2 separate regions of the Homo sapiens genome follow, and region 1 is linked to region 2. The links come from fine-mapping of genetic effects on gene expression. A gene starts in region 2. The other region holds a variant in brackets. All regions are shown on one strand. Distances are from middle to middle. Region 1 overlaps DTX1 (deltex E3 ubiquitin ligase 1). Region 2 holds the start of RASAL1 (RAS protein activator like 1).

Evidence for each region.
Region 1: its variant is fine-mapped to the expression of RASAL1 in whole blood (TOPMed, PIP above 0.99).

Annotation. Positions count from the first base shown.
Region 1 is chr12:113,088,048-113,090,952 of GRCh38, forward strand. The region is part of intron 3 of DTX1 (deltex E3 ubiquitin ligase 1); the gene reads left to right. Among named protein-coding and RNA genes, the nearest start is that of DTX1, 33 kb to the left of the region's middle. The variant CAGG/C (reference allele first, on the strand shown) is at 1,500.
Region 2 is chr12:113,134,424-113,137,328 of GRCh38, forward strand. It overlaps RASAL1 (RAS protein activator like 1), which reads right to left and starts at 1,338. Exons shown (of 21, transcript NM_001301202.2): 1 at 975-1,338. The coding sequence starts at 1,039. RefSeq lists a silencer at 1,325-1,464.

The DNA.
Region 1 (2,905 bases), 46 kb before region 2:
GCTCTCTAGGCTGGCTCAACTCCAGATGGCTCCACAGACCAACCTGGCAGGGTCAGCCCTGGCCCCTGACTCGGAAACTCCAGGACCCAGTGCCAGCTGCACCACCAACCAGCTGGGTGACCTTAGTGAAGTCATTTCCCTTCTCTGGGCTTCAGTCCCATCATCTGCAAAATAAATGACAAATAGAGTTCATCTCATGTGCCATCTCTGCTCCAGGGCAGTGACTTCCTGGAGCACTGTGTTGAGGAGGATTCTGAAGTTGCATCTTGGCTTAGCGGTAAGGCATGCCGAAATTGATTAGTAATGCCTGCTGTGGGTGCTAGGAGGACAGTAGTGGTATGCACTCATATATTTGACATTCCTGCTCTAACTTTGTCTGGCAGAAGAGGCGGCGTGGACCAGATCATACAGGGCCTGGTCATGCTTAAAGAGGGATAACATTAGGAGATATATCTAATGTAAATGATGAGTTAATGGGCGCAGCACACCAGCATGGCACATGTATACATATTTAACAAACCTGCACGTTGTGCACATGTACCCTAGAACTTAAAGTATAATTTTAAAAAAAGACTATAATGTCAGGTCGTGATTAGTGCTATGAAAAAAGAATTCAGTAAGGTAAGGACAAAGATGGGCTTTTTAAAAATAAAGTGGTTGCGGCCAGGCACAGTGGCTTATGCCTGTAAACCCAGCACTTTGGGAGGTCGAGGAGGGAGGACTACTTGAGCCCAGGAGGTCAGGTCCAGACCAGCCTGGGCAACACAGCGAGGCCCTGTCTCCTCAAAAGTTTTGTTGTTGTTGTTGTTGTTGTTGTTTAAGCTGGGTGTGGTGGTGTGTGCCAGTAGTCCCAGCTACTCAAGAGGCTGAGGTGGGAAGATCGCTTGAGCCCAGGAGTTCAAGACTGCAGTAAGCAATGGTTAAGCCACTGCACTCTAGCCAGGACAACAGAGCAAGATCTTGTCTATAAATAAATAACTAAATAAAGTGGTCGGGAAGGTGTCTCAGATAAGCTGACATTTGAGCAGAGACCTGTGCTAAGTGAGGGAGTGTGCCATGAGGATATCTGGGAAGAGCACCTTGGGAAAGGGTCAGCAAGTGCAAAGGCCCTGGGGTGGGAGTGTGCCTGGCATGCTTGAGAAAGAGCAGAGAGACCAGGGTGGCTGGAGTGGAGTGGGAGAGGGGTGAACACATAGGAAATGAGGTTCAGAGGGTAGATGGGGGCCAGATCAGGAGGCCAGGTGTTAACTGTGAGCAAAGTGGGAGCTGCAGGAGGAGTGAGAGCAGAGGACAGATGGGATCTGATTTGGGACTGGGAAAGGCAGAGAGGCTTGCATGGCAGTGGGGCCCATGCCTGCCTTCTGGTCAGAGTAGATTTCGGGGAGGGCCTGAGGGACTCCTCAGGTCCTGTGCCAGCCTGGGCCCCCAAGAAGGCAGAGCTAGGGGTGAAGGCTGGCTCCCCTTCCGGGAGGCCCGCAGGCAGCGGTCGCTTGTCCAGG[CAGG/C]AGGATGTTCTCACTGACTCGGAGGAAACAGCGTGTCCCACATCAAAAGGGGGCCGGGTGGCTCCCACGCTCAGGGTTCGTGGGAACTCTGCTACCCTGGGTTCTCGCAGGAGGCCTGCAGTTAGAGAGAAGCTGGAGACTACCTCGGGACTGTCCCCCAGGCTCACTGATGGGTAAATAAATAACAGTCCCACAGTGACACCCCACTCACAGTGCTCTTCCCAGGAGCAAGACTGACTTTTGTAATCTAGGGCTATGTGGTATTTAAGGGGCTCCAGAAATTTTAGGGCAGCTGAGATCTAAATCCTTCCCTTCCTGGAGTACCCTCTGTCTAACTCCTAGACCAAACACTCAGCAAGAGCAGGGTTACCCACTGGGCCAGACTGGGCATTATATAGACCTGGGGTAGCAAACTGGCTATACTGATTGATAGAGGCTGCTTGGAGAGCTGTACTGAGGACTCTGCTAAGCTTGAGAGAGTGCTGTGATGGATTAGTGATGTCTGCCACAGGCAGGAGACCAACCAGTGGTGGTATGCATGCTCAATATTTTTCTTTCCACCCAATTTATAGGTAGTCCTGGAGAAAAAAAGAGATACTTTCTTCTTGTGAGGCAGAAAGGAAGAAAGAGGGGTGAGGCAGACCTAGACTTAACCAGGTTGTCTGCACTAGAGGTGCTTGAAGAATGGGCAGGAAAGAGGAAAAGCTTGAGGGAAATGCCTCTATGCATTCCTATAAAAGTATAGAGAGGGAGGAAGTTAGAGTGGTGACAGCTGCCCCCCTGAGGAAGGCCCTGGAGGATTATGACAGACCCTGAGAAGGGTCAAATGAATACTCAGTGCCCCTCTTCCTGGGGCCCCCCCGCAGGGTGCCCGACAAGAAAATCAAGACACCTCCACTCTCATCCCTGCGCCAAATGATGAGCTTTACATGTTTTAGCACATTTAACTTTCACAGGACTCTATCCCCATTACAGGTGGGGAAACTGAGGCACAGTGCTTTCTTCCCACCTCCACTGACCAGGTCCTGGGGGACCCAGGGTACCCGCCATCCCATCCTGCCTCCCTCGGGAGCTGTGTTCATTGACTTCCATCACACCGGCGCCTCCTCAAGGGGCTCAATCCAGATGTCTGCTCCAGACCTCTCCACAGCCCTCAGAGGGGTCTGGGATGGGAGTCCTGGCCACGTGATACTATCCTGTATAGCCGAGCAGCCACCAAGTGGGTGTGTGTGCGCTGCACCTGTGTGCATGTGTGATTGTGCCTCTGCATGTGTGCAGGTGTGGGCCTCCCAGGCTGAGTGTCTGTGTGTCAGTGTCAGGAGGTGTGGGTCAGAGCATGTGCGCATGTGTCCTCGTGTGCAGTGAGTCAGCGTGTCCTCCTGCGCCCCCATGCATGATGTGAA
Region 2 (2,905 bases):
GCCACAGGGGAACTCCTAACAGGTCCTCCACCCTCCCAGCTGGATGGGAGACCCCAGGCAACCAGATGGGGACTCCGGTCCAGAGCTCTCATTGCCCAAATGGGAAACCAAGGCCCAGAGAGAAGCAGGTTCAAGGTCACACAACAAATGTCCTCCAGAGGATCCCACACCTGTCGCAGGTGCTAAGGCCCTCAGAGCCCCTTCTGGGCACTATGCCAAGCAGGAGGGGGAACCCGCCCCCCATATTCTGCTGATTCAGCAGCTGCTGACTCAGCCCTGGGGGAAGCATAGCTTGGGACTAGTAGTGAAGGGAGCCGTAGGGTCCCCCAGTCCCATTGCACCTGGCTGGGGAGGGGGTCGCAGCAAGGAATTGGCTCTTCAAGCAGCTCAGCACCCGGGGAAGGCCCACACGAGGCTGGGAGCCACAAGACTGGGGAGCTCAGGGCTTGGGGTCAAAAGGACCCTGGAGGGCCACCTGGTGACACTCTGCAAACCTAAGCACCAGATCCACACAGGATGTTAGGGCTCATCTGATCCCAGGCCCTCTCCAAGGGTCCTCCCCAGGGTTCCCTTGCTAGGCCCCCACCCACGCCTGGAGGAGCCACCTCCAACATCTGCCTGGACTAAGGAAGAGACCCCCCGCTTTCTCCCCTCCCAGATCTGACAGAATATGGCCCTCTAATCCCCTCTTCAGCTCTGGACGACCCCCTTTAGTACATCCCGGGAACAAAGACACCCCCTCCCCTGCCCGGGGGTGAGGCGGGGCATCTGCTAACTCTAGGCGCCCCCCTCCCACCGGGACAGCCATGGGCATGCGGCCTCTCGCCCCTTTAAAGCGGAACTGCCCCAAGACCAGTCTTGGACAAGAACCCCTCGCCCTCCTGCCAACCCGCCCTGGCACGCGGAAAGGGCGACGTCGGCCCCACCCCAGGCCTTGCGCGCCCCTCACCCAGAAGCGCCCGAGGAGTACTCACACGTCCTTGGCAGGCAGCGCGCGGCCCTCCACCACGCGAACATTCAGGGAGCTGCTCTTGGCCATGGCGCCTAGCCACAAACTTTCCAGGCAGAAGGGCGCTCAGGTTCCGAGGCTGGACCAGGGGACGTCTACATGTCACCTGCTTCAAGCCTGGCTCCCTGCCTCGTGGTCCCAGTGCCGCCTGTCCGAGACCCGGGTAGCTGGATGGGAGATTTCCGAAAGAGGAGAAGGTGTAGGTGCCCGGGGAGGGAGCGCCCGTCCGGACTCTACAGGTAGGAGCCGTGCTCCGAGCAGGAGGAGCGCGCAGGGGGCGCAGCGGGCTCTTGCCGAGGCGTCTGGAGCTCCAGACAAGCAGGCTGGGCGGGCAGGGGGCGGGAGGGGCGGCCCAGGGACCTCCCCACAATCCCGCCTCCAATGGGGTCCCCCACCTGACCCCGGGCCCCCTCGCGCGCCCTCTACCGGCACCCCAGTCATGCGCGCCAGAGCGCACGGGCGGCGGAGACAAGGGTGCACCGCCAGGTGGGGAGGGGCCCCCGTCCTGATGGGCGTGGCCGCTGGCTCCTGGTGAGTTGGCATTGGGCTTAAAAGACATGGTCTGTGCCCCCGCCTGTCCCTCATCCAACATATTCACACCTCTCCGCCCCCACCCCTCCTTGCCTACCATGCAGACACCTGCCTCCTCTCTCCAACCTCCGCGCCCCCCGGTCCAGGAGCAAGTATTAGTGGTGGGTGGGAGGCGTCGCCAGAGAGAGGGTCGCATGTTCCCTGGGGGTCCGTTCAGAGTCAAGGGAGGGGCCTTGAACATCCCCTTCCATCTCGTTCTAGTTTCCAGTTAAACACAGAACCCAGACTCTGCTCTAACGTCACGGGCTGGCACTGCGGGGGAGGAAGCCGCGGCCAGATGGGGGAGGGGAAGGCTTGAAGATAACCACTACAGCGATGATAAAAAGTCATCTACAGTTGTTTGAACACTTCATGGGTGCCAGGCACTGTTCTAAGCGCTTTACTGGGATTAGCTCATTTTTGTCTCCAGATGTGCACTACACACTACTCCACTGTTACCCCATTATCCGCAGTTTATGGATAAAGAAACTGAGGTTCAGAGGGATTAAATAACTTGGCAGAGGTCTCACAGTCAGTAACTGATTTGCCTTCCAGGGGTTCGAATCCTGGCTCTGCCATTTGGTAGCTGTCTGGACTTGGGTAAGCCATTCAACCTCTCTGTGCTTTGGTTTGGTTTTCTCATCTGTTGAGTGAGGATGACATTGCATTTCAGTCACAGGATTTTGAAAGAATTAAAAGAGTTAATGAAGATAAAAGTCTCAGGACAGTGACAAGTACCTAATACACGTCCAGAAAGTGTTTGATATTCTGATTGTTGTCCTTTGAGGCGTGGGCCACGCGTCACCTCTCCTGGGAAGGCTTCCAGGATGCCCTTCCACTCCGGTAGAGATTTTCTTTCCTTTCTCTCTGCTCCAGTGGCTCCAGGTTTGTACATTTTTCTGATTTTAAATGAGATAATATGACAGGCAGGGCCTGTCCCAGAACAGATCCGTTCGCACACTTATTTCTCCCTGTGAATTCATTGTTGACCTGCCCAAGACCTCTTAGAAAGGCCAGGCACCAATGGGAGTGCCCCTGCAGACTGAGTGCGGGAGCCAACGCCCAGACCGGTGAGACCAGGAGTGCCCTTCCTGGATCCGTCAGCAGCCCAATGGTCTGCTTCCCAGTCTCCCTTCTTGACTCCCCACCCAGCAACCCAGACAGGCTGATGAGGAACTCAGAGCCCTGGAATTCCTTCCCCAGCTGGTGGCTGCCTGGTGAGTCTCTGACCCACCAGAGATGGGGTCTCAGTTAATCCCATCTGGGAAATGGACCTAGCAGAACAGGCTCCAAGGCTTAGAAGTATTGCAACATCCTCAGCGGGGC